2 separate regions of the Homo sapiens genome follow, and region 2 is linked to region 1. Evidence: fine-mapped expression QTL. A gene starts in region 1. The other region holds a variant in brackets. All regions are shown on one strand. Distances are from middle to middle. Region 1 holds the start of PTPRR (protein tyrosine phosphatase receptor type R). Region 2 overlaps PTPRR (protein tyrosine phosphatase receptor type R).

The links.
Region 2: its variant is fine-mapped to the expression of PTPRR in lung (TOPMed, PIP above 0.99).

Annotation. Positions count from the first base shown.
Region 1 is chr12:70,913,131-70,929,518 of GRCh38, reverse strand. It overlaps PTPRR (protein tyrosine phosphatase receptor type R), which reads left to right and starts at 8,781. Exons shown (of 14, transcript NM_002849.4): 1 at 8,781-9,186. The coding sequence starts at 9,129.
Region 2 is chr12:70,692,181-70,708,568 of GRCh38, reverse strand. It overlaps PTPRR (protein tyrosine phosphatase receptor type R), which reads left to right. Exons shown (of 14, transcript NM_002849.4): 7 at 7,246-7,432; 8 at 10,220-10,304. Among named protein-coding and RNA genes, the nearest start is that of PTPRB, 63 kb to the right of the region's middle. The variant G/A (reference allele first, on the strand shown) is at 9,412.

The DNA.
Region 1 (16,388 bases):
GATGCTCTGCAACAATTAAAAATATGATTGTGAACAAACTTAAATGACATGGAATTATGTCTCACAGTATTATTAGGTAAAGAAATAGTTTCCAAATTCATAGCATGATCCCAATGATGTAAAAATAATGTTAAAACTAACAATAATTATAGGTACATGCATGCAAAGACACACATATCCCCAAGATGAGGGTAGAGGAAAACCAGCTATGCCAAAGCATTAGCTGTATTTGTCACCAGTTGGTAGAATCCATAGATCACATTCTATTTTGTTTTTTCTCTATTGTCTATTGTGCAATAGACACAATATTACAAAATTTTGTACTTTAGAATGTTCAATTTCAGTCTGAAGAGAATTAATTTAGATGAAGGAAAACTGCAGAAATACCATCCTGGTTTTTGCCTACTTTCTAGAAATAGTGAGGTAAAATTGGGCTTCTATATATTATGTTTATGACTGATTCAAATAAAATTTCATTTTATTTCCAGTTTTGGAGCTGAATTTGGTTTTGAAAGGAATTCATTTTCTAATCTCTATGATACAAACCTAATATAAAATATGATTTTAGTTTAAGTTTGGAAGACAAATTTGAGGGTAGATATCTTTCCTAAAGTAAAGTACTTCCAAGATTAGAGGTTCCAAATGACACCTTTGTAAGAGAAATGGTTTATATTTTCTATTTCTATTAACAGTAAGGTAGTTTTTTTTGTTTTTTTGTTTGTTTGTTTTTGTTTTGTTTTTAAGATGGAGTCTCGCTCTGTCACCCGGGCTGGAGTGCAGTGGCGCGATCTTGGCTCACTGCAACCTCCGCCTCCCGGGTTCACCCCATTCTCCTGCCTCAGCCTCCGAAGTAGCTAGGACTACAGGCGCCCACCACCATGCCCGGCTAATTTTTTTTTGTATTTTTTTTTAGTACAGATGGGGTTTCACCATGTTAGCTAGGATGGTCTTGATCTCCTGACCTCGTGATCCTCCCACCTCGGCCTCCCAAAGTGCTGGGATTACACGCGTGAGCCACCGCGCCCGGCCACAGTAAGGTAGTATTTTGATGGGCACCTATCACATTAAATTGAATAAAAAAGGAATTTTACTTAAAAATAAAATGAAGCTACCTTCTATTTCATCCAAAAATAATAAAGTATCAAAATGATTTGCTTAAGCCATCCTAAGAAACAAGGAATTTGTCAAACTGTTTTCCTCCAGCATTTGGACAATAACTAACCCAAATATTCTGATGTCATTTGCCACACAGGAGGCTGAGAAAACAAAAATGCTTGCTAGGGCATTTTTCTCATTCTTTTCCTGCTTATATTTTTTTTCTTTTCTTTTTTTTTTTTTTTTTTAAGACAGAATCTCACTCTGTCACCAAGGCTGGAGTGCAGTGGTATGATCTCAGCTCACTGCAACCTCTGCCTCCTGGATTCAAGCGATTCTCCTGCCTCAGCCTCCCAGGTAGCTGGGATTATAGGCATGTGCCACCACACCCGGCTAATTTTTGTATTTTTAGTAGAGACGGTTTCACCCTGTTAGCTAGCCTGGTCTCAAACTCCTGACCTCAGGTGATCCATCCGCCTCTGCCTCCCAAAGCGCTGGGATTACAGGTGTGAGCCACCGCGCCCGGTCTCATTTCCTGCTTATATTTCTCATTCATATTATGTTAGCTTGACTTTTTGCTAGTGGTTTTAGTATAAGGGCAGCTCACAAAGTTTTTCTTTGTTTCTCAAAATGAATAAAATATCAAAATAGGCACCCACATTTCTAAATCAATAAGGTGTTTATTTTACACCAAAAACATGGAATAAAGAGCAGAATTCTTAGTTGGTACATCAGTTGGCTTTGGGTAGTCCCAATTTCTGAATCTTGTTAACGGCTTTGCTATCTCACAGTTGTATTTGAAATCAGTGAAACATGAATCAATGAAAATCTCTGGTGTAAAAATATTCATTTAAACTAATTTGGCAATTTGCCAACTGGATTTCTCTTTATATATTTTATATATTTACAGATATGCTGAAAATTATTTCTGATACTGTGGGGTTTTTTTTTCAGATTGGTTAAGATATCTATGGAATCATGAGAGTCTTTGCTGTAGCTATTCCCTCGGCCTAGGAAGTTCTTTAACCAGGTTTCTGCTCAGCTAATTTCAACTTCCAAGTCTTTCTCAATGCTCGCTTTCTCCACTTAAAGACCCTACTTAATTCTGCAAAATCCTTGCACTCATATTCTTCTCCCACCCCACCCCCACCTGCCTAATTCCCCTTACTTAGATCTACTTTTTCTGTTTCTCATAGCAGTCATCAATTTCCATCATACTATATAATTTACTTATTTCTTATATTTACTATTAAAGGTACATTTCACTTACAATTTAAGCTAAAGCAAAAATGTTAGTCTATTTTGTTCAACAATATATCCCAAGTACTTAATATACTTCCTGATGCATCATAGGTACTCAATATATAGTTTAATTATTTGAAATCAAGCAACATACCAACGAAATGTCGGCAGATGATTCCACTGTTTTTGGAATGTATGCGATATAGTATATCCTACCGTAATGTGACTTCAAATGACTTGACTTCACTGAACATAGGCACCCGTGTTGCCCTATCACATATGGTTTCTGATGAATGAGTCGAACTTAAAACCGTAAACAACTGCTTCATTGTCTGGGTGTATTAGTGGTTGTGTTATAGTCAATGGACATTTTTAGTAAGATTAACTCTTCATGTTATAGAGGTGCAGGTGTCTAACAAGAAAAAAAAATTTCTTCTGAAATGCTTTGCAACCACGAACTATAGACTAATAAACCACCCCATTCTCTATTATAGGCATCCAGCAGCAAGAATGAGTGAAAGAAATAAGTATTTTTAAAAAGTTTAAACTTTTATTCAATATTATTATTATTATTATTATTATTATTATTATTATTATTTTGAGATGGAGTCTTGCTCTGTTGCTCAGGCTGGAATTCAATGATGCTATCTCAACTCACTGCAACCTCCACCTCATAGGTTCAAGGGATTCTGCCACCTCAGCCTCCCGAGTAGCTGGGATTACAGGCATCCACCATCATGCCTGGCTAATTTTTGAATTTTCATAGAAACGAGGTTTCACCATGTTGGCCAGGCCAGGGCAGGTTTTGGACTCCTGACCTCAGGTGATCTGCCTGCCTTGGCCTCCCAAAGTGCTGGGATTACAGGTGTGAGCTACCGTGCCCGGCCTTAAACTTTTAGTTTTAAAGAATGAAAAGTCAACACCGGGGCCTGTTGTGGGGCAGGGGGAGCAGGGAGGGATAGCATTGGAGATATACCTAATGTAAATGACGAGTTAATGGGTGCAGCACACCAACATGGCACATGTATACATATGTAACAAACCTGCACGTTGTGCACATGTACCCTAGAACTTAAGGCATAATAAAGATATATATATATGCAAAAAAAAAAAGAATGAAGAGTCAGTGAGGGAGACATTAAGGCCTATATTTGGGAGATGTCCTTTTAAATCATCTTGTAATTATGTGAGAAAATAATGTAGAGAAATGAGAGCAAGATTAAATGATCTAATCAACCCACAGTTACAATCCCAGGATATACTTAGTGTCCCAGGCTATTGTGTGAACAAGTTGTTCCAAAGTGGCCTCATTCAAGGAAATCTAAAAGAATGGCCAACCATTGCAGAAAATGTATTTGAATGCTCAAAGTAGATAGTCTAAGCCATAACAGAGGGCTGTCACATCTGTGTGCTGCTCAGGATGATGGATAATATAAGTGCAGCCTGATTAGTGTCTTGGGATAAACAGAGAGCTAAAGCAGGAGAGTCAGAGGTTTGTAAATAAATCTATTACTGACATCTTGGATGAATCTGACCTTTGCAGTGCCAGAATAGATGACAATACAATACATTGGTACCAAGGGCTAGCTCCAAGAAAACTTTGTTCTTCGTTTTGAATAAAATTTTAATGATGAACCAATAGCAGAATCTATAGGTACATATAGCCTTTCTGCTTTTCATATTTTATGTTTTACTACAATAGCATAATTCACATATGCACAGAAAAGTATATCTGCCTTGTTTTAGGTACCTAATTTTTTTCCTTAGGATACATATTGCTGCCTTTGTGTGTGTGTATCAAATGCTTTAATTTAACAAAACTACAACTGTGTTAAGTTATAAAATGTAATTGTTGTTATCCATCTTGAAGTCTGTGTCTTGGGATAAGAACACTGTTTTCAATTTAAGTATTAAAATAAGTTCGGTCATTAAGCAGGGATGTTGTACAATACAGCTGATAACAGCATAGTGCTAGGGGTCACCATACCTGAGTTCTAATCCCAGCTTCACCACTTACCAACTGGATGGCTATAGGCAAATTACTAGCTTCGCTGAGCTTCAGTTTTCTCCTCTACTACAAAAAAAAAAAAAAAATAATACTTCACACAGCTCTTGTGAGACTTCAATGTGATAATATATATTTTTAGAATTTTAGTGCTTTTCCTCCCCTATTCTTATTGCCCCTTGCAATTTCATTGTTCTCTTCACTGTATGCTTATGAGAAAGGGTAGATCATTCTTCTTGTTATGGTTGGGAAAATACTAAAAAATAATAATGGTGAATTTATATACCTGAACATGGTATTTTCATCTGTGAATTTTGAATTCATTCCTTTTCATCCTGAGCTATATTCCACTCTGAATATAGCTTAATTCACATCAATTATTTACTTTGTAAAAAGAAATTATTTTTCTTCTTTTCTCCTCTTATAAAAGATAGCTCTCAGACAAAAGGAAACAGACTTTGGGATTGATAAAGTGGCTGCATAAAGGATGGGAAAGGGCAAGCACAGAACAAATCTTAGTGAGGTGTTTATAACTGTTACCTATTGCTCCCTTACATGTTCAGAAGTTCCTTGAATCCATTTTGCTGCTTTATATCTCTGCCACTGGCTCACACAATTCCCTGGCCTTTCTCTTCATGTAGAGCAGTTAGAACCTACTTATCCAGCCAGACTCAGTTCGTTTCCTGTTGCCCACCAGTTTCTTGCCTGCTGCCCATCCCCTCCTCTGCTCCCACCCTCCATAGAAGAAATCATTTCCTCCATTCTTCTCCATTCTATCTTAAGCATCTTTCTAACACAGTTCCTCTAAGCATGATTTTACTTGCTGTCTTTGTTCACTAGATGCTAGGGCCCAGAGTCCACTGCCACAAGCAGTGTCTCTTGTTCTCCTGGAGACAGTCTTCTATGAGTGTTCCTCAACACAGAGCTTTACTGTGGGGCCAGGCATCTCATGCCCAGCCCTGATCTAATCATCTAATTCTAGTGAGCAACCTACAACTGAGTGTGTGTGTGTCTGTGTGTGTGTGTGTGTGTGTGTGTTATTAGAGGTAGTATAATATAGTGGTTTGGTATCAAATTATCAGATGTACATCTTAATTCTATCAATTTACTTTTTAACTGATTACTTACTACTTGATTTTGGGCAAGTTACTTCTCCATGCCTCAACTATATTATCTCTAAAATGAGATCATTATAGTATCCTTTTGTAGAAATATTATAATGTTTAAATAGGACATCCAAATGCTTAGAATAGAACCTGGCACACAGGAAGCACAGTCAATGTTAGCCATAATTATACTTAAATAATAGTAATCTAAATAACTTAAGTAGGAGATCCTTATAATCAATGGATCTGATTTCTCAATTTAAAGTGTCTTAAGGAAAGATGGCTGACATGAATAATTTTCATCCATTTATAGAGAAGTAAATATGGATGCTCATAATGATTAAATCTGTTTTGAAGGCAGGCTCTGAAAAGCTTCTTTCTTGCATAAATTTTCTCTAAGACTCACCTCATAAGAAAAAGAAATTATGCATCTTATGTGGAGGAAAATTCCATATGATATTTTTTATTTATCTTGTAAAATGTAAATGATTCTTTTATGACATAGCTCTGTAGGCCACTACTAATTTGTATAGTTCTCTCATAGTAATTTCCATGCTTCTTTGAATTACAGCTAACTTTTTAAAACCCTGATGCAGTGTTTTAACCAAGCTTTTTTTCCAAAACACCAAGTCACCTTCACTAGCATTAGATCACAGTTAAGGAAAAACAGCACCTATCGACTCAGAATATTTCTGTATGAGTTAAGTGGTTGACTTTTTCACTAATTGGCTAATTCATTCATTGCTGTTTGACTTCACGAACAGCAATGAGTGAATTAGCCAATTAGTGAAAAAGTGAATTGAAGCCGTTACAAGTATGATATTAGATTGACTCACATAGGAATATGACCTTTTTCGTTACTTTATCATTTCTAAGTAAATTAATAATGAATGTCTAGTCACCAAAATTACAGCCCACTCAGGGTTATTTTTACCATGCTGAACTAACTATTCTAATGATATATCCAGCCAAATTGGAAATTGGAAATTTTTGCTGCTAACGGAATTTTCATGCATAGTTTAACAATTCAGCTACCTGCAGCCCTGAACAAAATACATTGCCAGCAGGATGCTTTTTGGCAAAGTCATAGTCAATTATAATAATGGGAATTTTAAATGCCCCACCAATAAATGTTGGAATTATCTGTGGAAAAGGAAGGGGTTCAGAACATTACTGCAGCATTGTTTCATTACCATAAGTAAGTATATTTTATTCTTGGAGATCTATGTAAGTTTGATAATTAGTTATTTTAGGAAACAAGAAAATAAGAAAAATAGACCTATTGTAAGTGGGATACAATTATTTTTCCCTAACCTCCAGCCCTGCAGCATTTCTAGTAACAGATGTTAGATGAGAAGAGTTATTCTTCTAAGCTTTACAGAATGCTAAATAAATTATCTCAAAGGTTGACTCAGTAAGAATTTCAAAGAGTTAATTGTCAGTATTGAACTTTGTCAACTATCATTTTCATTTATTCATTTTTGAGTATCTATTTTGCATGAGGCATTGCTCTAGGGAGTTGGGACATATCAATAAAGTCATCAAAGTTCTTCAACATTGGAGCTCAAATTCTGTTTTGCGGGGGGGAGTAGGGAAATAGATACTAAACAATAGATTTTATAAGTAATTATTTTGGTTTGTTAGAAAGTGATACGGGAAAAGCAAACTGGAGGACAGTGAATCAGGAATAGGAGAAGAGGTTGCAGCTTAGAGTGGTTTGGGATGAAATGATAGTGCCACAGAAATGGAGTGTGCCACACGCATGGGGGAGTAGGGGGTGGAGCACGTTGCTAGAGAGGGGCTAGACATGGAGATATGTCTCTATTTTCAGCAGAGAAGGCCTGTCAAGATATTAAAAGTACATCTCATTGTCCCCTTCTCCCACTTGTTGGAGTGCTTCCTGGCCTTGTCTCTCAGAGCTGAAGATGACATAAATCATAAAAGAAATAAATGGTACCGCCTGGGCTCTCTGATCTTATAAGGTCCCACCTAATTTAAGCTCTGGTGGATAGCCTATTTCCCATTAGTTGTCTCAATTCACAGAGGATGGAGAAAGAAAGCACTGAATGAGATGTGCAGCTCAACTCAATGGGCACTTGTTAGCCCCAATTATTTGGCTAGGACAACTTTATTCAAGTTAATGGAATACAAAACTCAGCAGTTCTTATGGAGACTTCAATGTGCTGTAGAACAAACCACAGATAAATGAACTGTCTGAAAGAATAATATGAGGCACGGCTAAACAAGTGTTGTGGAAGAGAAAGATCACTGTAATCTAGAGTTAGTTAGAGTTAGGGCTTTCTGGAAAAGTGAGACCAACATTACACCTTCGAAAACTAGTGTGGTGGTGGTGCAAGTGGAGGAAAATGGGAAAGAGGCAACAGTGTCCATAAAGACACAGAGGCAGAAAGGGCAGAGGCCCTGGGATAGTTAAAAGAGAAGTCTAGCTGAGGGACTTCTTGACTTGACTAGCAGCAATTAGCCATGACTAATAAGGCTTTCCACACTCCAAAGACTTAGATGGAGGGATAAAAAACCATCTAATGGCAGACTGTGGTAGCCTCCCTAGAGACACAGAGCTGGGCCGGATGAGTCCAGGCACTGACGTGATCCATTATCTTTCACCTTAAAGAGTAAAAGGGAAACTAAAGTTAATTACCTCCACGAAACAAAAAGGTGCCTTCTTGTGCTTCAATTACATGGATATATTCTACTAGTCTAAAAGTATCTTCTCACTTCTTTCTGTCACTGTGAGGACTTGAGTCAGAAGAAAGTTTAAATACAGTCATTGAGCTGGAAAGAGTGGAAAGAGAAGCAAAGAGGGGGAAGCTGTAGGAAGGACGAAGTCACCCCCAAGATACATGGTTACTGCTTACACCAAGCAAGCTGCCTTGGGAACGCTTCCCCCGAGCAGCCAGAATGCTCAGCAGTGGAAGACACCTCTATTCCTGTAGGCGAGTCCTGGGAAGCTGGTCAATCTGCAAATGCCAATTCCCAGCAGTGAGCTCGGTCCACGTGTAAATCAAGATTTGGGGAAAGAGTAGGGTGGGTGGCATGGTTGACAATGTCATCAGCTCCCTCCTCTGACTCCTGTGGTCGTGCCCCCATCTACTCTCACTCAGCTACACCCCACCTTCGGATTTGTGATGGACGCTGGGTCCCTAGTAACCACAGCAAGTGTCTCCCCCGCACTTCCCCCTTCCCCACCCCCACCCCCACCCCCAACCACCACCCCAGCGATGGAGCCTACTCTGCTCCAAGCCGCCGCTAAGACCCGGAGAAGCGGAATTTCACTTTGAAATTCCCTTGCCTCGTGAGGGCCGGCGCTGGGCATGCTCAGTAGCCGCGGCGCTGCTGCTGGGCTGCTGGGCTGGCGCGGAGTCCACCCTGCCGTCTCCGCCTTGGCTTCTGGGCGTCCAGAAGGCCAGGCATTTGCCGCCTCTGAGCGCTTCTGTTCCCCTTACCCGCAACCTCCTACTGCTCTTCCTCTCTCCCTCTCTTAGGGAGGTTGAAGCTGGTGCTGGTTTCTGTCGGCGCCACAGACTGACTGCTCTGCAAACCCCAGCCGAGGACCTGAATCCCGGAGACTAGAAGACCCTTGGCGGTGGCTCTTTCTAATAGCACTTTACCTGAAGTGGGGTCGTGGTGGAGTTTCTCCTCCACCTCTCAATGCAAACACTATGCGGAGAGCAGTCTGCTTCCCTGCGCTGTGCCTGCTCCTTAATCTTCACGCTGCAGGTAAGGGGTTGCCAGGCTTAGAGCCGGAGCTGTGCATGAGATGGGAAACTGCACATGCTTAAGGACTCTAGGAAAAGCTTGCCTTGCGAAGAAAGCCTTTCTAAAAAGGTAAAACAGGACAGTACCTGACAGGGAAGGGGTGAGGGAGTCGTGCACCTGTTGGAAAACTGAGGCCGAAAACTTAACCTAAAATTAGCTCTTGATTTTTCTTTACTTTATACGAAAATAGTGAACATTTTCAATATGAATACAGGTTTGCTCCCCCCTTCGCCTCCCCTCCGTCTAGATTCCCTGCTCTTGTTTCTAGGCTATGCACTTAACTGTCAATTTTTCAGGAGAGGGATAAGACATCCTGCTAGATGTAACCTTTTCTACTGCAGCGGCTACTACATTCATAAGGTCTCTTGGTCTAGCGAGCGCTCATAGGAAGGCATTGGCTGTAACCTGATGGACCACATCTCCGCCCAAAAGATCGAAATACATGGTTCACATTAGTGATGCTGCACCAGGCTCCTTTGGCCCCTGCTCTTGTCACTCGAATTTTCTAAGCCAATAAGAGGAAGAAAAGGTTTCAAATAGAATCCTCTTGTCTCTTTCAGCACCGTGGCTAGCGTCCGCTGGCATATTAAAAAAAAAAAAAAAAAAAAAAAAAAAAAAAACAATTACAGTTCCAAAGCTGACAACCCTGGGTTAGGCACTGTCCCTCGGACAGATTTGATAAGGTGTAACCAAGAGTAACAGTGAGACTGCTCCCAAATATAAATAGATTTGAGGCACCAGAATCAATATCAAGTCTCGTGAGGAAGCAAACCTTGGGAAGTACCTGAGAGATATTATATGTGGTGTCCCTGCTTTTTGCATACATAGCACCTCTATTTAATGCAGACAGACTTGCTAGGCTGAATTCCTTATCATTGTCACACACACATGAACCAAAATAAAATATGGCAGGGAGATTTTAGAAACCCTACTGTGACAGCAGTTGTCCATGCAGTAGTCCTGTAACAACCAGAGACGAGGCATTTTCCCTGAGTGTGCTTCTCATCCAATCACACATATCCATTCATTCCTTCAAGCAACATTTGCTGAGTGTATACTATGTTCTAGGGGTAATGAGTAAAAATAATTGTTCTGAAATTACAATCCTTGCAGTATCTTTTTTAAAAGAGTGGGTGAATTTTATTCTCTGTGTACAATAGTAGGAGTGAAATATGGTACTTTCTTATTCCAGCTAACGCTATTATTTAAATGTATCATGAATCTTTTGAGCAAATAATGCATAGGATTATTAAAGCTATTATTAAATACACATGTTAATTGTTATAATTATGATGTTATATTGTGGAGTTTTCAATAGTTCTTTGGCACATTTTGAGAAGTAGAAAATAGCTATGACTTGATTATTAAATTATTTGCAAACAGCTGTAGTGAATTATTTCGTTACCACATACAATTCTTCAATGCTGAAATGTGGGATGAAAACATACACATTGGGTTGAGTTTTATTTATAGTATTGCTTAATAATAGACTGACACAAACATTCATTACAGAAAAATCTCAATTCTTACTAAGGTAGCAATGATTTAGCTGGTCTGCCAACAATATCAGTGTAGTCATTTTTTCAAAACTAACATATAAAAAAGTTTAAAGATCACATTTGATACATCTTGAGTAATTATATCTTAAAAGTTATAAATAAACTGAAGCATGTGAAAAACATGTCTTGATTTACTGTAGATGAATATTCGGGATGAGAAAAATGAGGACTTTTGCTCATCAGATGAGAAACCTAGAAGCCTGTAGCCCTAGATTTTACCTGGAGTTCTGCCAAAGGGTATATTACCAAAGCCAATCCAATCCATCTCTACTTCAACTTTTTAATTTGCAAAACAAAGATAAAAAGTAAGATTAATCAACCAATTTTAATTTAATAAGAAAATGCATTTAAGGACATTTTTATATTTCAATTGCAAGATACTATTCATTGTATTCATATTTAATATAGTAAAATACATTGGTGTTTTATCACAGCAGATTGTAAGTTTAATATTATAGTTCTCTTGCCAATTTCATTTTAAATGCATTTTAATTTTAAACAGCAATTTGTGGGTCACAAGCTGTCATCAGATTAAAATTTATCACAGTTATCTAATAACATTGTTAGGGCTTTTCATCAGAACTAAAACAAACACAGCTCCTTGGTCTAAGCTTCTATACATTTGGAGATTAAGAAAATAAGTGGATGGGATGACAAAGATCAAGAAATCAAGATATTAATCTCTACTTGTTGAAGGTGTGAGTTTGTTACTTTTATGGAAGACTTTTCTCTCAGAACAGAGGCTGACTTCATAAAGAAGGGAAATGAATTCTATACATTCAGGCCTCTTTAACTGTAAAGCTAATTGATCCATTTTGGTTACGCCCAGGGTATCAGCAACTGCTTTATGCTGGTGGAACTGATGACACCTTATAATGCTTTAGAGATGGGAGGAATGTGCTAACGGGATGTAAGTGTTCTTTTTAGCTATATTAGGAACTGTTGCCTTCAATATAACCATGCCTGTAATGATAAGTAGCAAACTGCTTGCAACTTGAGTGCCATCTCCCATTATTTTGCTTATGGTTGCCTAAGACACCATCGGGGGGAAAAAGAAGATTATGACTCGCATTCTGGCTAGGGAGAAGTACTGTGGTCTATAATAGCTGTGGGAGAAAAATGAGGAGTGGGTACCATGCTGTGTAAGTGGCATCTCTGGGTAAATTAACACTAAAGGATTACTAAGCATGGTTCTTGTTAGAGAAGCTGGACACTACTCTACCCATGGCAGCCGATTTTTATAGATCACCTAACAAGGAAGTTGTGGTTATTGTCCATCCAACTGCTTATTTTACAGGTGAGAAAATGAAGATCTAGAGTATTAAAGTGGTAGTTAATAGCATAGTCGGGATAAAAGCCCAGGTTTCCAGACCCGTGGTTGCATACTATATAAAATTATACACTGGTTCTACAATAGGTGAGGCCACCATTGATTAAGTTAGTGGTGCAAAATACTTTTTACCTAACTGTCCTTATTCTTTACTCTTTCGTGAACCAGTTTAATATATAAACTCCAGTTGAAAATACCACTTCAGGAATATTCAAGGAGGCAATTAAAAGCCACCACAATAATACGAATGGTAAAAAAATATTATGTGGAAGATCCACAGAGCTTATTTTCTTCAGCATTTCTCCTCTTCCTTTGTCCAAAGAAGCATATTCCATTTGAGGAGATATTATTTATAGTGTTGTATTTTAGTTGCAAAAGAGTACATTTTTGAGATATATTAAAAATTCTCATGTGAAAGCTTTCTTTTTCCTAGGGAATGTTTTGCTAACAAAATACAGAAACTGATTTCAATCCATTGCTTTCTCTTTGAGTTCTGGAAAAGGTTCTTTCAAATTTCTGTGTTGTTCTTGCTATCAGCCTTTTTGAATGGCACAAAGACTGCCTTCAATGTATCTCCTGAAACTATCTCTTCACTCTCAGAGAAGTGCATAGTCAATTTCCTTAGACTCTAAGAAGAAAGGTATTCTATGATAGTACCAAGAAGATCTGGGAGGTGATTTGCAGAAGTACCACCCTCAAAAGAAAGGATAGACTAACAGGTAAATGATATATTTTAAGATTTTAAGATGTTCCTTAGAACTCCAGAATTTGTTTTTCCTATTGAAAATCTCTCAGAGAAGTGCATAGTCAATTTCTCTAGTCTCTGAGAAGAAAGGTATTCTATGATGGTGCCAAGAAGATCTGGGAGATGATTTGCAGAAGTACCACCCTCAAAAGAAACGATAGACTAACAGGTAAATGATATATTTTAAGATTTTAAGATGTTCCTTAGAACTCCAGAATTTGTTTTTCCTATTGAAAATCACTCAATATAGACCTTACAATGGTCTAGAGTCTCTCTCCACATTATTTCTATGATATTATCTCTCACTACTTTCTTCTTTTTTTACCTCTCTCCAGCCATATTTATCCTTCTGTTTCTAGAAGATGCCAGGCACTCACCCTTTCATACTGTTTTGCTTTTTTCTTTCTCCAGGTGTCTCCACAGCTTAATCCCACAATAATTTTAGAACTTTAATTAAATATTACCTTGTTAATGAGGTTATTCTATTTCATATTTCATTTTCCCTTCCCCCCATCACCCAGATAAAAATTCTAGCACCCTTTCCCTGCCTAACTTTTCTTTCCCCAGAGGTCTTCACCACCCAACATACAATATATTTTACTTTTTTTATTGTAGTTTCCCCTCTCTGTATTAAAATGTAAGCCCATTTAGGGCACATATTTTTGCCTGTTTTGTTTATTATTGCATGTATTAGAGGTCTTGGGCTACCTAGTACCTGGGGGCAGTTCCTGACATAAAATCTTTCTAAAGATTAAATAAATAAGTTAAATAAATAATGTAATACAGTGATATTTCTGGTCTCTTCTTTTTGCATTTAATATCTTCTTAACACCCACAAAAAACACACATAGTCCACTTAGCCACTTCTGGAATGGACTTAAACAGCTCATTTGTCCAAAACTCATGTTGCCTCACATGCCCCCAAAACACACTATCTCTAACAGATTTTGCTGTCATTGTGAACTGAAGGGCAATAAAGGATGGGTTTGTGTTAGACCAGAACTACTAATCAACTCAGTGAAAAAAGTCTTTCAAACTGATTGCCAGATATTGTGCAGCCCAAATTCTTTGCTGATTGGCTACATTTTCACTTCTCAGTGAAATGCCTTGTACATGTAGGAATGGCTACAGGGATCAGCTGATTTACAAACAGAGAGTCTAATACACTAGAAAAAACTGATTTGCTTCTTTGGTACTTAAGAGACACAGGAATATGTATATTGGAGATGACATATTTCTAGCACCTCCAATAGAATAGCACCTCACATATTCCATTGAAAATCACATCCTACCTAACACCTTGTAAAAATTCTGGGATGCATTATGCACATTCAGCCTTTTCTTCTTTATTTCTCACCTACTTCTCTATCAGCTTCCGTCCTCATCCTATCATCCTATGGTTGAACATAATTAAAGAGGTTATTGTAATGTATGTTCTTGTTATCAATGCATTTCTATAGTACTTATATATTTTGACCCCTTTCTGAATTTTAAAATTTTTCCTCACTTGACTTCCACAGACAGTCATTACTTCCTAGCTTCCCTCTTATTTCTCCAGCCATTTCTCAATTTGTACTTTTAGGTCTTCTGCTGTGTATTATTTAATGGTTAGTGCTCTCTACAGCTTGTCATTGATTTTTTGTTATTTTTCTCTGTATACAATCTCCCTGGATAATTATACTCAGACTTGCACGTCAAAGATTCCAAAATCCACATTTCCATCTCAGTTATCTCCCCTGAACTCTGGTTCTATATTTAAAATTACCTAGAAGTCATTGTATATTCCATAGTAATCTTTTTGTTTTTGTTGTTGTTGTTGTTGCTGTTGTTGTTGTTAGAGACAGGGCCTCACTCTGTTGCCCAAGCTTGAGTGCAGTGGTGCAATCATGGCTCCCTGCAGCCTCGACCTCCTGGGCTCAAGCAGTCCTCCTGCCTCAACCTCAGAGAGTGCTGGGATTACAGGTGTGAGCCACAGTACCTGGCCCCACAATAATCTTATATACAACTATTTTTACTCAACACTTCTCAACACAATTACTCTGATAAATATTCCCTAACATTGTGAATAACACCAGGATTCTTCACAATGACCCAGGTCTGAAACAAATAATTGATCCTAGATCATCCCTTTGCTACTTTCATCTTAAAGGTTTCAAACTCTTCTCATAAGATGTTCTCCACTCTCCATGATCATGTCACTGCCTTGAGACAGATCCTTATTTCTCACATAATATCTTGTGATGACCTCCTATCAAATTTATTCTTTATAATAATGTCGGAGGTGAAACTCTTAAAAGCATACCTGATCATATTCTTTCTCCAAAAAATTCTTTAATACAGCTATCTCCTTTTCTTTTAGAATAAACTCCAAACTCATTAGGAAGGCAGTCTTTTGCGATGAGGTCTTCTCATCTTGCCCTCCTTTGCACACTAATATCACACTAAGACAAAATTTCCTTTGGTTTGCCATGTCTTGAATCATTTCACATACTGTTCTATTTCTCTTAAATACCAATACTCTGCTCCTTTTTTTAGATGACTCTTTCTCCAACTTCAAATGTTGATCAGGCATAGCCCACTTTGAGAATCTTCTTTTTTTTGGATGACTCACCTCATTCAAGTAGCTCTCCTACATTTCCCTTTTCAATCCTGTATATTCCCCTGTCAATGTACTTAACCTGTATACTGAAGTTTTTTGAGAACAATAACACAATTGCAGCTTTATTTCTATATACTTATTCCCTAGAACTATGCTTGTTACCTAATATGGCATCAGTAAGTGTTCAATGAATGAATACATATATTAAATATATTTGTTAAAATGAATTGTGATAAATTAATTTACATTGACCAAGAGATTATATCTCATCTTCATGACCATAAAGAAGGTAATTGACTTTACTACTGCCACCTTAGTGCAATTTACACTTATTGACAACAAGGAAATGGAGATGGGACAGAAAATTTTCTATGTAAATACACTCCATAAGATAAGTTTGTGTCCCATGGGCATGATGCTATTTGTAGTGTACTTGTGTGCTGAACTCTTTCTAGATGGATAGACATTCTTGCATGATTTTCCAGTACTACTTAAGAATAGAATGAGATTTTTTTTTTACTTTAAAGAGCTCAAAGAGTTAGATAAACAACATAGCATGATAGTTGTCCACTACAGAATGGACCCGGAACTCCTAACCCTGATTACTGATTGGTTATTATCTACCTATAGCAAATACAAGACATTTACACATTCAAAATCAGGTGGGAGTGTGAGACAGTGGCTTCAATAAATCAAGACCAAAAATTATTCAACCCTCCTTTTCTCTCTGAATTAAAAACCAAATCATCACACAAAATGTCTGAATATTTGAGTGGTTGTATACATTTTTTCTCTCATTTTGTGTGTATACAGTCTTTATAGAACCATAAAGTTTTTGGATCCCACATATTTTTTCTCATAGAAGACATTCTTACACCTGAAGAATGGAGACTATTTTGTGAATTATTTAAAAATCGCTTTATGTGAGAT
Region 2 (16,388 bases), 220 kb after region 1:
GAGTAAAAATTAATCATCCTTGGTTACAAAACAAAGCAGTACATTTTCTTCCTTTTTCTGAATAAAATTAACATAGGATGTAACTTTAGGATGTTAATGCTCAGACTTTATTGATGCTTAAACAAGATTCAAACTGAATCACAACTGTAACATTTACCTATGTAAGCTTGGCTTCTACACTCCAAATTTTCAGACTCCTGTTTAATATAGTCCCCCCAATTCCTGTATTTTCAGAGGACTGGAAAAACCGTCAAAGCACAGTAATTACATATAGCATCCCCCTAACCAATTCATTTGCAACTATTCATCCACGCAGATGCCAAAAGTGTTGCTCTCCATCTGTTCATGACTGGGTACAACAGGAGAACTCAAGTCAAAGTCTTTGGCCTCAATGTGTTCACACTTTACTGCAAATCATTTCTAGTGAATATGATATATATTGGATACATATTGGGAAAATTGCTAGGAAGTCTCAGAGGAAAGAGCCCCTGGCATTTGGAGGATTGAACCTGAAAGTGTTGGGGCAAGCACATTTGAGGCATAGAGAACAGAACTGCAGGTAGATTGTCTGCCTGGGACACAGGTCCGGATGAGAATGTGACAGGAGATGAGGATGGAGAAATACACAGTAGATAGATTAGGAAGCATCTTACGTCAAAAGGGTAGCTACTTGCAGGTTTTATCATATTTTCAGTGCTCAGATATTCCAGTGAAATCTGGAAAAAATCTACTGAACTAGGAGATTTTAGAGTTAGGAAGCCTTGCTAAGGAACAACTGCAAAGGTCTGAACCAAAGAGGAAGAGAGTTTGAGCTACATCAATATCAGCGAGCTCCAAGAGTCTGTCTTCATGCCTCTTCCACACTGCGAGTGCCCACTGACTTCTCCAAACTCAAGAGATTTTGAGTTAGTTTTTAAGACTTCTTGACTGAAAAGTAATTAGGGAAATGCACAAACATTGAAGTACAAGGATGTTCATTACAGTTTTGTTTATAATGGTGAAAAAATTGAAAATGACTCAATGTCCAAAAATAAAGTATTGGTTAAATAACTATGACACATCTCAATAATGGGATACTATCAAATGTTTGAAAACAGTGTTTAAAAAAATTTGAGGACATGAAAAGACATTCATGATATAGTTTTTTTAAAAAGTAAATCATATGCAATGGTTCTGTGCCTACTTCCTTTTTTTAAAAGTAAATCATAAAAGAATATATTGAATAAAAATCTAGATTTTTGTCATACATATAAGGACTTGAAGGACATACACAAAAAATGTTCTTAGCAGTTACTCTAAATATGGGTATTATGAAATTTGTAAAATCTCTATTTTTAGCTTTAGTTAACATGCATTATTTTTGAATCATGAAAACATTGTTAACTTTAAAGACATTAGGTATAAATGTTAAGGACTTGAAGTATGAAAAATAGTCCCAACTTAGACGACCATTGATTTTGCATGTGTGATACTGCTGCTAACTCTTAATCACTAACCAATTTTCTCAACTTTACCTCCCTCAAATGTTCATCAGTGTGTACTCATGTAGCTCCCACATAGCTGTGTAAATAGAGAGTGAAGCAAAAATCACCATGTTATTATTAATTATGATAATAATTCATATATGTTTATTATATCCCAGACATTAGGGTGGAAGTATTCACATATTCTTGCTTATTTATCTTTTATGGTGTGAGTCAATTTTGTGAGTTTTATTATTATTCCCATTTGCAGATTATGCAGTCTAAGGTCCAAGTTGCTTAAGCGAAATGCAGAACAATGATTGAACGCATTTTCCAAGGTCAATATTTCAAGAGTAATGTGACAAGTTCAATGTATCTGGTTCTTTTAAATGATTGTTTTGAATTTTTTTTGTAAAATAAGGGTGTAGTAAATTTTGCCTTGTCCTATACACATATAAAAGGTCAGACATCTTTTTATGAATTCAAAACTTTTATAGATTCAATCAAAAGGCATAGCAACATTCTACCTAGTGAGGTGTAGGTCCTTTCAGGTAGGAAAATGGATCATTTCCTACACTAAAAATGTTCTCTATGTTAAAAGATTTTCTTTTTACTTTAGGGTGAAATTCATATATCATCTTCCTGGGTTCATGCCTGGCATCTTTTATATTTATTATTATTTCTTCCCTTCAGGATTTCCTTTGGGAAATTTTATTATGAATGGTCACAATACCTACTCATTTATTTCAGTTCTCGAAATTGGTAACACTCCATTTATGTCACAATTTAACTTTCCTAGTGGTCCGTGTTTATTTCTGTTTTATCCTATCATCTTTCAAGTGATCCAGAAAGAGGGTTGGTACTATGTATAATTTACTGGAAGATAAAGAGATGGAAACAGCATAACATTATTAAATGCCATTAACCTCGGAACTTAAAAGTCATAGAATTGGGAGTTGCAAAAACTGCCTATGCCACTCAGTCCACACAAAGTAAAAGAATTCCATCTCTCCATTTCTCCACTTTTGTCTCCTTTGTTATTCAAATGAGCAAAAACTTGTTTTTTTTTTCCTTTTTCATTCTGTTTAAGTAGAGTTATTCTAGAAAACTATGTAGAAAAATTGTATGTGCAAAATTAAATAAGTTGTGGGTGAGAGGGTTTAAGGTCACCTTTTATGATCAAGCCAAGATTGTCAGATTCATGGCCACTGTAACACACAAGGATGAATAGTTGGACTAAAGGATTCAAGATCACATTTTCAGTTCTGAAGACAACATCAACATTAAAGTTCTTGCTTCTCACCACATAAGATTTGACGTGTACACTAATGAAGACAACTCCAGACAAATTATATATACTTTTCACAGAACCAAAAAAAAAAATCTCGGAAGTCAAATCTGTTTGCTTTCATTCTGTACTAAATTCTTCTTATAATCTTTAAAATCCATATTTTTCCGTTCTCATTTCAAGTATTTCAAGATAAGCAGCTGCCACCATTTCCCACTGAAACTTAATTTCATAATCCAACAGTTTCAAAAGTACATCTTCCGGGACTACAAGAAAAAATGATCATCTGTTTCATTTTGTCCTCTTCCATTTCCATTCTTTATTGGTTGCTAAATGAGGTATACTGCTTGAAGTCTCACTGTTCTCAGTGACCAAAGTACTGCAAAAAAAGTAGCATGTCTGAGAATTAGAGCCCGTAGACATGATACTAGAAATTTTAGCCCTTTCTTCCTAAATTCAGCTTCTAAAATCTAGCATTATGGTCCCCAACTACCGGGAAAATAAATGCCTGGTTTCTGAGTTATTCCAACACTCAGTTGTAATGTTACTGTATTTTTAGCTACGTTTTCTTCCCACCTCTAAGTCATTAGAAACTGATGTCATTAGAATTGAACAATTTTGACCCAAAGTTGTTTATATTCTCTTGCTGAAATGGATGTGTCGCCCTGGCCCATAATATTTATACATATTTTCCTTTTTAGTTAATTATAATTAGCATGCTGTTTATTGCATTCCTTTTACCTTTCCCTAAGAATTTGCTTTTTCCTTCAATTGTTTGCATTGGTATCTTTTGAATTTCCTCCCTCTTATTTATTTTTTGGCATAAATAATAATTGGTGCTGCAGCAGGAGCTTGATAAAGCTTTTTATTATGTTCCCTTTTGTCCAACAGCAATCATGAGGCATTAAAAAGGCTAAACAGTTTGCCCACAGTTCCAAGACAAAATAAAAGTAAAGCTTTCAGTAGAGTTCGTTTTCTTGCTTTCCACATTCCTTTTTTATTAAAGGTATAGTTCTCCTATTATTTATGTTGATTTTTTTTCTAAATTCTGTCAATTTTTTTATACGTCTTAATTAGAATTTTCCCATAAGTTTATATGTTTATCTTGTTTTTGAAATGTCTTTCTGACTGTAATATATAAATGGTTATTATTTAAGTCAGTTAGCATGAAAATGCTTCCACAGCTCTCTGCTTACCACAGAATCCTTAGAAAATTAACTCATTAAATCAAATAGACCTTAGACACGGGATGTCAAAGGCTTCTAATCTCCCAGGTTTAGGCAGCGTATACTGTGGGAAGTCAAAACAGAAATTAATACACCCTGATGATGTTCTGGATCCTCTTTTATCTGGCTTTTTTTTTCGTTATTTATGTATTTATTTATTTATTTATTTTTGACATGGGGTCTCACTCTGTCACCCAACCTGGAGTACGACAGTGGTGCAATCTTACCTCACTGCAGCCTCGAACTCCTGGGCTCAAGCAATCTTCCGGCCTCATCCTCCCGAATAGCTGAGACTACAGGCAAGCACCACAACACTTAGCTATTTTATTTTTTGTAGAGACAGGGTCTTGCTATGTTGCCCAAGCCAGTCTCAAACTCCTGGCCTCAAGTGATCCTCCTGCCTCAGTCTCCCAAAGTGCTGGGATTACAGATGTCAGCCAACATCCCTGGACTATTTTTGGGCTTTTTATAGTCTTATAGTGTCTATGACTGTTGCTTCTCTCTCATCTCTCTTACATAAGCCTGCTCCCCAATTTCAAAATACATTTTTATACAAGAGAACTCTAGCTCAAACTGCTTCTATGCTGTTCTTCAAAGTTGTATTAATTTATTCTCCTACACTTTTTTTCCTACCAGATTCTTTAACTCTAGACCAAAAACTCACCTATTAAACGTTTGCTTTCAAAGCCCAACTTAAATGACTTCTACCTCATGAATCTGCTCTGACCACTCCAGATGGAAGAGATCTCACCATCTATAGCACAAGCATCACTCCATTGACAGAGGGCAGACAATTTTGTCTCTTGAGGCTGAAAATTTGACTGAATGGCATGGTGATTTTAAAGGGCATAGGACTAGCCATCCCTTAAGCGGCCTCTCTCACCTTCATACTAAAATATCTATAAAGCTTGCAAAAGCTGAATTCTCACAAATGCCCTAAATATTAAGACCAATCGGCAAACTATTATCAGAATCCGTAAGGATTTTCTATCAATTTGAAGTCCAGAACTGAACTGAAAAACTTTAAAAACTACTTTCCCACTAAAAATAGATTAAATTCTTGGTCCATGAGTAGAACCATTCTTTGCTCTTCTTCAACTATTTGCCTCCTACTCAGAAGCACAGGAACCCTATCAACCACCACCAAAAACCAAATAAGAAAAAGTGGAGTGGGAAAAATATCCCTCTATTAGGTAGGCAGGATTTTATGAGCATCTAGAATAAATGCTATTCCCTAATCCCTAACCCAGTGATCCAAAAGAGTTAAGAAGAATAATAGGATGAGAAAAAGTTTTCAGAAACATACCCCCCAAAACATATAGGCATATCAATATTCATTTTTTAAAGCCAGATGTGAGGGCAAATATAAAATTAACAGGAAAGAAAGTAATATTGGTAACATTTATAGTGAAGATATGACTAAATCCCTTCAAATAACACAATGGCTGCAATGTACAAGGTAAAAACTGTTAGAAGGAAAAATAACAAGCATAATTATTGTGGAAGACTCACATACATATCTCAGGCTTTGACAAATCCAGTAGAAAAAAAAAAAGGAAGGAAAGAATAGGTTGGAATAAAGTAATATCTTCAATAAAATAATGGTATAATAAATAAGGTGATATATATGTATATATGTGCAGATAGATACTTATGAACATATACAGATAATCAAACTAGATGCCAGCAAAACATCTGTGAAATATTTAGAAAATGATGTAGTGTTTATCTCGAAAAAAAATCAAGTAGTTTCAACCATTAAAAGGCCAGCCATTCTCTAATTTCCACAACTATAACTAGAAATTATAAGGAAAATAAATGTCTAAACTTACAGATATCCATCAAATTAAAGTAGAAATTAAAATCTCAATTACAAACCATTTAGAAATTAACAAAAATGACATTACATATCAAATTATAGAATGACAACAAAAATGCAACCAGAGGCAGATTCATCAGAGAAGAAAACTGATAGATTTTCGTTAATGGATTTTGTTGTTGTTGTTGTATATTCCAATAATTTTCCACTGTTTGAAATTAAGCTCAAGCCACTGTAATATTTCTTAATGTCGCATTCCAGAGTAAGTATTAAAATACCAGAGGGAATAATTTGCTGGGCCTAGCATCTACTCTTACTGTCTTTACTCTCACATATTTTGGCCTGTTTTTCCCTGCTCTCTACTTCCTTGAGCCGCCAACTGCTTGGCACTATATTTGATCTGACACACACCTACGGCCCCTTTAAATGTAACAGTTTTTGTAAACACCATCTCTGACTTCAATCCTCAGTCTCTCACATGCTATTTCATAGTTACCCCTTGGTCCACACAGCTAATATTACTTGTAAAAGGCATCCTCACTTCCTACTCAGGACTCAGGGTCTGTGTAAGTTGTAAGAGCATCCCCTTGCCCCCCAGCGGGAAAAGGGGAATTATGAGAGGAAGATAAATTGTAACTCATTTTAAGGGTCTGTGATTTCTATGGCCCCTTATAAGTTTACCACAAAATTAAATGAATTCGTGTGTCAATTCACATATGCGTGCATACATATACACATAAATAGAGGATACAGAAGCCATCTTTTTTTATTTTTATCTATTGTTTTATTTATTTATTTTAGAGCCAAGGTCTCTCTCTGCTGCCCAGGCTGGAGTACAGTGGCACCATCACGGCTCACTGCAGCCTCAACCCCCCGGGCTCAAATGATTCTCTCACCTCAGCCTCCCTAGTAGCTGAGACTACAAGTGTGGGTCACCACATCCAGCTACTTTTTGTATGTTTTGTAGAGACAGGGTTTTACCATGTTGCCCAGGTTGGTCTTGAACTCCTGAACTCAGGCAATCCACCCACCTCAGCCTCCCAAAGTGCTGGGATTGCAGTCATGAACTACCTCATCTGGCCCCAGAAGCCATTTTTTAGGGATTCACTCAGAAGATATAGATATAGATATAGCTTTTCCTAATTTTTTTTTACTTAATTTTTCACTTAATATTATTAGCCAACCTATGATTTCTGTAATAAGTATATGCATTCATAAATTATAGCATATTTTCTCAATTTAGAGTTCTTTCCAACAACAAAATTGTTATTTTCCTGTGAAGGAACTATGGGTAGTTGCTATGGCCAACCATGATACTAAAAGAGAAAATATAGTTGGTTGTTATTTCTGTAAAAGTTCTCACTGAATTGTGTGCATGTACAGAAAGACAAGTTTTTGCAATCAAAATAAGTATGTGGTGTTTAAACATAACATTCTTCTCCAATGTAGAAGAGGGTCCAACGTATCTCTTACATTGGACATGAGTAGCTTGGGGAACATTGAACCCTTTGTGTCTATACCAACACCACGGGAGAAGGTAGCAATGGAGTATCTGCAGTCAGCCAGCCGAATTCTCACAAGGTCTCAGCTGAGGGACGTCGTGGCAAGTTCACATTTACTCCAAAGTGAATTCATGGTGAGCCTTCTATTTATTGTTCACTCTTCAGTCGGTATTTTGATACATGGGGCACTAGAGACGTATGGAAATGATACTGTCCTATACTTAAGCAGTCTACAGTAAACAAATGGCAAAGTGAAATGGTTTTAGATTCACTCAGTCTCATCCACTATTGATAAGTATTAAAATTGGAATGTAGAGCTAAATTAAGGCAGAATATGCAAGAATTGGTGAGGCAAATAAGTGGTATAGGGAGCTGGGCAGAGAAGGGGCATTCCAGGACAAAGAATAGCCTTGCTGTCACTGTCTGGGGAATTAAACTGTTCAGTTTAACTGGAACATTGAAATCAAGGTGGGAAGTGGCAAAAGTTGAGCCTCAGAAGTATAAAAGAAACCCTAGCCTTAATATATGTTTAGGAGCTTGGACTTTATCTTATGTTTTGGATAGATCATTCTATTTGCAGTGGAGTAGGCACTAAAAGGGAGCAGTTTAGAGGCTCTAGTGTTAATCCTGTGGAACTGCGTTGGTGGCCTAAACTAATATAGTAGAAGGGAAAATGGAAAGAATCTGTAGGAATCTACAAGAAGTGGGATTAATTGAATGAGGCAGCCAAAAGTAATGGAAAAGTCAGGGATTGATATTCGTGTTTTTGGTTTGGCCAACAGGGTGCATATGGTGCCCTTTAACGAAATAAGGAACACAGGAGGAAGACCAAGTGTGGGCTAAAAAGAATGATGAATTCAGTTTTAGACATACCAGTGTTGCTAGTGAAAGCTTAAAGCATGATAACATACATCAACTCAGAGAACATGAAGTAAGATTAAACCTTCTTAGGTCTAATTGTTGCCCAAGGAGAATATTGACTTTGTTGATCACCTCTTGCATCTTAAGCCGTATTGGTTGAGTACAATAAATTGATTATTAGTTCAGGCATTTGCAGCCATCCTAATGGTGACAGATTCAGCAATGGGTTGGATCTACTATTAGCCCCATCAACTATTATTAAGTGTCCAAAGTAAAATACAAACATGAAAATCAGACTCTGTGGTGTATCATATTTTACATGTGAAGAAAATGAGACCTGTAGGAATGAAAGAACAAGTCAGTGGTCACACAGCTAGCCAAAGGCACACCTAGAGCTTTTTTTTTCTAGAACTGCAGACAGCTCTTTGTTTATGAAATAAGACCTTACCATAGCCCACTTTCCTGAAAGGAAATTGAAGGCCAGAAGGAGTACACAGGAGAAAGAGAATGCTGGAAGATGACAGACTGTCAGTGTGTGTCAGAAAACAGAAGGTGAGAAGGAAGAAGGGGAGGAATAAAGATATTACCTTTGTGGCTTTGCCCAAAGACACTGACGTGCTTGAAATTACCAAACATGAACATGTGTTTTCCATTGAATATTCAACAATTTTGCTTATTTTTATAACTTGGAACAAACAGGTTAAAACATTTAGTTGGAGCAGAGAATAGGGATAAATATCATGGATAGCTAGCATAATGCAGGTAAAGGAAAAATTATTTTAAAAATAAGTAACTTGGGGCCAGGTGTTGTGGCTCATGCTTGTAATCCCAGCTACTCAGGAAGCTGAGATGGGAGGATGCCTTGAGCCCAGGAGTTTGAGGTTACAGTGAGCTATGATTGTGCCACTGCACACTGACCTAGGTGACAGAGTGAGATCCCATCTCTAAAAATAAATTAATTAATAAACGAATAGCTGTTTCTCTCTGTAGAACAAGCCTCAAATTCATAGTATAGTCCAGCTTTTCTCAAATTTTCAGAATGACTGAAAACTAGGATAATTTGAATGAATTTAAAGATGATTTCTTCTATTTCAATCAATATTAGACTGTTAAGTTAAATTTTCTACTGGAGAAAGTTTAAGTAGTAAAAATATCTTATTTGATCAAATATTTAATGTTTATCAGTCATTAAATAACATAAAAGTTATTTTGTTCATGTTAATCTTATCAAAGTTAGAGAACATACTATTTT[G/A]TATAATCAAATCTTTAAACAAATGTTTGTTTGGACCCTTTTGAAAACTTTGGCTTGTTGCTTTATTTGTCCTGGTTAGCTACAGATACACACCTTTTTAGATCTAATGCACTTACATACAGCCACTCTTTTCCTATTGTTCCCTGTCCAATCACTTGAGGCATATAATGTATACTCTGATAAAATAAGAATAGTAATGTTCTTAAGTGGGAGAAACAGTGTTTGAATGCCCTTCACTAAAAACAGTGCATTTATAACTTAAAATGGAACAGTCCAGTTATAAACCATTTCTTAATTCAAAAAAAAGTCATGTCATCACTTGAATTAACAAAAAAGCCCTTTATATTTACCATTTTGGGAAAGAGGTTTTAATAATCCTAAAAGAGTCACTATTAGTGTGAAAAGATAATCTATTATAGTAAAATTTTTGGTACTAAAGTTATGTAAAAACTGGAATATATTTGAATACATTGTTTTTTAAAAAAATTCACTTTTTAGCATCTGTCTAATCTTTCTAGCAATTATGTCACAGCAGGATTCTTAAAATCTAACCAGTGTTATATGTCTCCTTACTGACTACATATTAAGCAATATTTTCTAACACACAGAGCTGTTTCTTAGAAGTCAGCTTGTCCGGATGCAGCTGATATGTTTAGGAAAGGAAGGGTGTTGGTCCACCAGAGGTGCTAGATCTGTTGTTTTTAAGTGGCTTTGAAGTCCAATAGAACTCTGGATCAGATGCCCCCCTGTGAAGATTTTCTTTGTGGCAGTATTAGATACACTAATTTGATATTATTTATTTTTGCAGGAAATACCAATGAACTTTGTGGATCCCAAAGAAATTGATATTCCGCGTCATGGAACTAAAAATCGCTATAAGACCATTTTACCAAGTAAGCTTCTTGATTTTATAATTTGCATTGTATGGGGGGCAAGGGGAGGGATAGCCATTAGGAGAAATACCTAATGTAGATGATGGGTTGATGGATGCAGCAAAAGCAAACCACAATGGCACATGTATACCTATGTAACAAACCTGCACATTCTGCACATGTATCCCAGAACTTAAAGTATAAATAATAATAATAATTTACATTGTAAAGCACAAGACAAGTCTTCCCATTAACCCTTACCTCAGCATTTCCAATTCTTACAACACCCACTTCATATCAAATTTGGAATTACAAACACATGTCAAGACTAATAATCATTAAAACTATCTGAAGTTAATGATTTTACCTTTTTACTCTTATTATAATGTCCAGGTCACAATTCCAATAGACACATATTCTAAAATTTTGTTGTGCCACACATTATGGCTACCTGATTTTTGTCAAGGGTCAAACAATTCAATGGGAAAAAGAGAGTCTTTTCAACAAATGGAGCAGAAACAACCAGATATCCACATGCAAAAAAATGAAGTTGAAGACAAAAATTGACTCAAAATGGACCAGAGACCTACACATAAGAGCTAGAACTACAAAACTCATAAACGAAAACAGCTGTAAATCTTTATGACCTTGAATTAGTCAGTGGTTTCTTAGATAAGCCAACAAAAGCACAAACAGCAGCAAAAAAAAATTGAACTTCATTAATACTAAAAATTTTGTGCTTCAAAGGATACCTTCAAGGAAGTGAAAAGACAACTCATAGAATGGAAGAAAATAAATATTTGCAAATCATGTATCTAATAAGGGACATGTAGCTACAATACGCAAATCTTACAACTCAATAATAGAAACACAAACAACCCAAAAAATGGACAAAAGATTTCAATGGATATTTCTCCCTAGAAGATGTACAAATGACCAACAAGCATATTAAAAGATGTTTAACATCACTAGCCATCAGTGAAATCAAAACTACAGCAAGATAGTACTTTATATCCATGAGGATAACTATAATTTTAAAAATAGACAATAAAAAATGCTGGCAAGGATGTAGAGAATTGGAAACTTAACACTACAGTTTTAAGTACAGCTACAGCTACTTAGGAAAACAGTTTGGCAGTTCCTTAAAAGATAAAACTGAGTTGCTATATGACCTGGACACTCTACTTCTAGGTAAATATTACCTAAAAGAAATGAAATGTGTTCACACAAAAATGATACAAAAATATTTATAACAGCATTATTCATAATAGCCAAAGAGTGGCAACCATCAGCTGAGAAATGGATAGATAAAATGTAGTATAGTCACACAATAGAATCAATAAAAAGGAACAAGGCACTGATGAACCTTGAATGAACCTTGAAAACATCATGCTAAGTGAAAGAAGCCAGGCACAAAAGACCTCATATTTTGTAGTCCATTTATATGAAATGTCCAGATAGCTAAATCTATACAGACAGAAAATATCTTAGTGGTTGCTTAGCATTAGGGGATATGGAGAATGACTGCTAAAGGACCTGTATTTATTTTGGGGCTAATTGAATGTTATAAAATTGATTTACAGTGATTGTTGCACAGCTCTGTGAAAATTTAAAAAAAAATGCTGTGATGGCACATGAAATGGGGGGATTGTATGGAATGTGAATTATTTCTCAATAAAACTATTACCAAAAAAATGTTGCTGTGCATGACAATGACCTGGAGTCCTTGTTAGTCCTGTGCCCAACCCCAGGGATTTTGTTTAAGTAGATCTGCTGTTGAGCACAGAAAACTACTTTTAGCAAACACCTAGGTGATTCCAATCCAGATGAAACCAGGATCCACTTTGAGAACCACTACTATATGTGAAACTAGATTGAGCTTCATGGAATTTATTAACGTCAAGCAATGACCTGAATGCCAGGGACCAGTAAGAAATAAGAAACAGTCTATAAAATCAAGGAGGTCACAGACTAGAAACGAGAGTCATATAAATGGTAATTATGCTCAGTGCATAGGCCAGAATAAAGATACTGCCCAAGCAGTGTAGGAGTTCAGAGAGGACTGAGTAATTAATTCTGTCCAGAGAAATTAGGCAAAAAAAAAAAAATGGAGAGGAAGTAATATTTTCTATGACTAAACAAACAGATATAGTTGGAGTTTTGGCAAAATCAGTAAACATCTCACGACAAAGCTCAGGAAAGATGGAGCCACAAAGTCTTTTTAACTTTTGACATTGAAATAGCAATCTTCATAATTTAGTTCATTAATTCATTCATAAGACACCAAATTCTTTATATTCATAGTAATGGTGATGTAATAAAGTAATTAAACAATTACTGTTAATACTATCTTTGGCCTTCCCCTTCTGGTGGAATTGGAAATACATTGTTAAACTATAACATATTTTTAACTGCTCTATATAGTTAAATTTATTTACCTAAGGTAGAGTCACCATTGAAGGTTATTTTATGACTATACTTGGCCAAAGGGGATGAAAGTGCTGCGTGTTAGAATTTGTGTTTTCTCTCTCCCTCTCTCTCTCTCTGTTAAATTTTTATCTAAAATATACCAAACATAAGTAATAAGGGAATATACCTCCATCACAATTATATATACCCAAACCATCATCTAATTTTAGAAGGATTTGGAAATTATTAGCATTAGTTCAAAGTTCAGCCTTCTCCATTTCCTGCCCAGATGATATCAGACAACTGCTTCATAGTCCTGTGTCAGTTTTTCCGTTCACAGAACTGGGTGGACCGCTGGATTCAGGGCACCTGTGCTGACAGCTGATGTTGCAAATGATGGATTTTCTGTTGAAAATGTCTGCAGGCTGAATGCCCCACCCACCACCCTCTGTTGCACAAAATATAATTTAGGAAATATAGCTTAGAAAAGCCACACTATTGGGTGAAAGCATCCAAAAAGCCTGGAATGAATACACAAAGATGTTCTTTATGGTTTTAGACTGTAATATGAGATAAACTTGAAATATTACATAAAATGATGATTATTAAATGATCAAGAATTTAAACATTATGATTGTTTTTAGTTTTAACCTACACTAAACTCTTCTTAGTTCTAAAAGCTTGACAGCTTGTACATAATAGCAACATTATACAATTCTGAGAATGCCTTGCAACAGATATATGGATAGGCAAGAATCAATTATGAATAAATCAATTTATAATTATAAATTAAATTATAGTCATTTCTCTAATGACAGTGTTATCTTGGCTGAGATTAAAATGCTAAAGTCAAGTTTATATCAAATTATTTTGCAGTGTAAACAAATATTAGTGATAAAAATATGTCTACATCCTAAATCACAAAAGTAGTAGGAAAAAACAATCATACATCAATAGAAAATTATTAGCAGACAATAAAATATAATACTGTAATAATAATCATACATCAATAGAAAATTATTAGCACACAATAAAATACTGTAATAATAAGTTTAAATTTTTTATTTTTACTTTAGATTCAGGGGGTACCTGTGCAGGTTTGTTACAAGGGTATATTGTGTGATGCTGCCGTTTGGGCTTCTTCTGACGGCATGACACCCAGAGAGTGAACATAGTACCCAATAGGAAGATTTTCAGCCCTTCTCCCTTTCCCTCCCTCCCTTTTTTTGGAGTCCCAGTTACTATTGTTTTCATCTTTATGTCTATGTGTATCCAGAATTTAGCTCTCACTTATAAGTGAGAACATGCAATATTTGGTTTTCTGTTCCTGTGTTAATTTGCTTAGAATAATGGCCTCCAGCTGCATCCATGTTGCTGCAAAGGACATGATTTTGTTCTTTTTTATGACTTCATGGTGTTCCATGGTGTATGTGTACCACATTTTCTTTATCCAATCCACTGTTGATGGGCATCTAGGTTGTTTCCATGTCTTTGTTATTGTGAATAGTGCTGCACTATAATAATAAATTGTATGCATATTTCTTTTATGCAGTGTGTTGATACAAATATAAGATAATATAGATACACTTAAAGAATGCCATTTACTCAGGTCATCATTTTATATTTAAAATTTTAACATCTAATAATGTTTCCTACTTAAATTATGTTTCCTTTTTTATTATATAAAGTACCTAGCACAGAGTAGATATGCAAATAAGTGAACCACTCATTAAAGCAACAAGTTATGTAGCTAAAGCAAGATACTGGAATTAGATTTGATTTCCTACCCCAACAAAAACATTTATAATTTTTGGCAGGATATTTAATCTCCCTATGCCATCCTTTATTCCCAAAAGTAGTGATAACAATACTCTCCTACAAGGCTACCGAGAAAATTAAATGATAGTATGTGTAAAATGTCTGTCAAAGTTCCAACTAATAGTAAGCCCTCAGCTAATGTTAGTTTCTCTTTCCCTCCCTATCTAACTGAAGATGAATCCATTTCTAACCTCAGAACCAATTCCAGGAAATAGGGGTACCATCTATGTATAGAGAAGTTTACAGTTTTAAAAGCAAAGTACTCAAGAGCCCCATTTTCATTCATTTATAACAGTAGTGATGAAAACGATGATGATTATACATTTTTTGTTTAATTCTTGGCTTTTTTTTTTAGTACAAGCTATATATTACAAGAGTTTTTCTTGGAAACCTACATTTCCCCATACTCAGTTATATGTTGTATTCTTGCATTTGTAAAAGGAAGTAGTTGGAGCCACACACAGTGGCTCATGTCCTGGAGTTTGAGACCAGCCTGGGCAATATAATAAGACCCCATTTCCACACACACAAAAAAAGTTTAATTACTAGCCTGGGCAACATGGCAAAACCTCATCTCTACCAAAAAATACAAAATGTAGCCAGGCATGGTGGTGCACATGTGTGGTCCCAGCTACTTGGGAGGCTGAGGCAGGAGGATCACTTGAGCCCGGGAGGTTGAGGTCGCAGTGAGCTGTGATCACATCTGGGAGTAGCCACTGCAATTCAGCCTGGGCAACAAAGTGAGACTCCCCTCTCTGAATTTTTAATAAAAAGGATTTGGAAACTTCTAAATACTTGGAAAATACTGTAAGTTACTAATTACCAACATAATTTAGCTTTACAGGGAAACTGTTTCTAAGCAGTTTTTAGCTTTACCAGTAAATCATATACATCATAGGCATTATAAAAACTGAAGGAAGCAGGCCTCTTTTCAAGCCTGAATGGTGTAGGATGTTTATGGAAACTTCTAACAATCAGTGGATACTGAAAGGCATGAAAGATTTCTTGTCCTCTTTGCTAAGAAAAGAAAAAAATATCTAGAAAGTCAAAAACAGGGCTTTAACTCTTTCTCATAGAAATTAATTCTGACATTAAACCCTCTGTGAGCCACATCCCAAATAGAAATCACAAAGGATACAAAAGTGAATTAAATACAGCCTTTGCCCTCTAGGGGCTCACCACACTCCATTGAGGGCAGGCAGAAATTTAAGCACTTAAAATACAAGATGATAAATACTAAAATAAAACTCAGGGGACCCAAGCAAAGAAGAGAATGCCTAATTCTGCCTGGGAAGGTCAGGGAGAACTTCAGAAAGACAGTATTTTCTGAATTGAGCCCTGAGTAATGAGGAAGACTTTACCATGCAGAGAAGGCAAAGGAAACAATATGTGCAAAAGCATAAAATCTGCAAAAACATAGAACATTTGGGAGATTGCCCTAGGTCCATGGGGCTAGATTATATGATACACGTGGGAAAGCAGCTGTTGGTGAGGCCTTGGGATGATCATTAAGGATCTGCTCTATCTTGCTAAGTACCCCTCTTGGCATTCATCTTCTAGGCCTGCACTGTCAAGTAGAGCAACCAGAACCCACTTATGGCTAGGTCAGTTTACACTTAAATGAATTAAAATTAAATAAAATTAAAACTTTAGTTTCTCAGTTTTTACTAGCCACATTTCAAGTGCTTGAAAGCTAGAGGCTACATTTTTTGGACAGCACAGATAGATAATATTTTCATCACCTCAGAAAATTCTATTGATCAGGGCTGCTCTAAACTGAATTATCAATAAGTATATAAATATAATAGTTAAGTATGTAAATACAGTAGGTATAATAAAATTGAGTCCAACGGACAAATAGGATTATATACAATACCT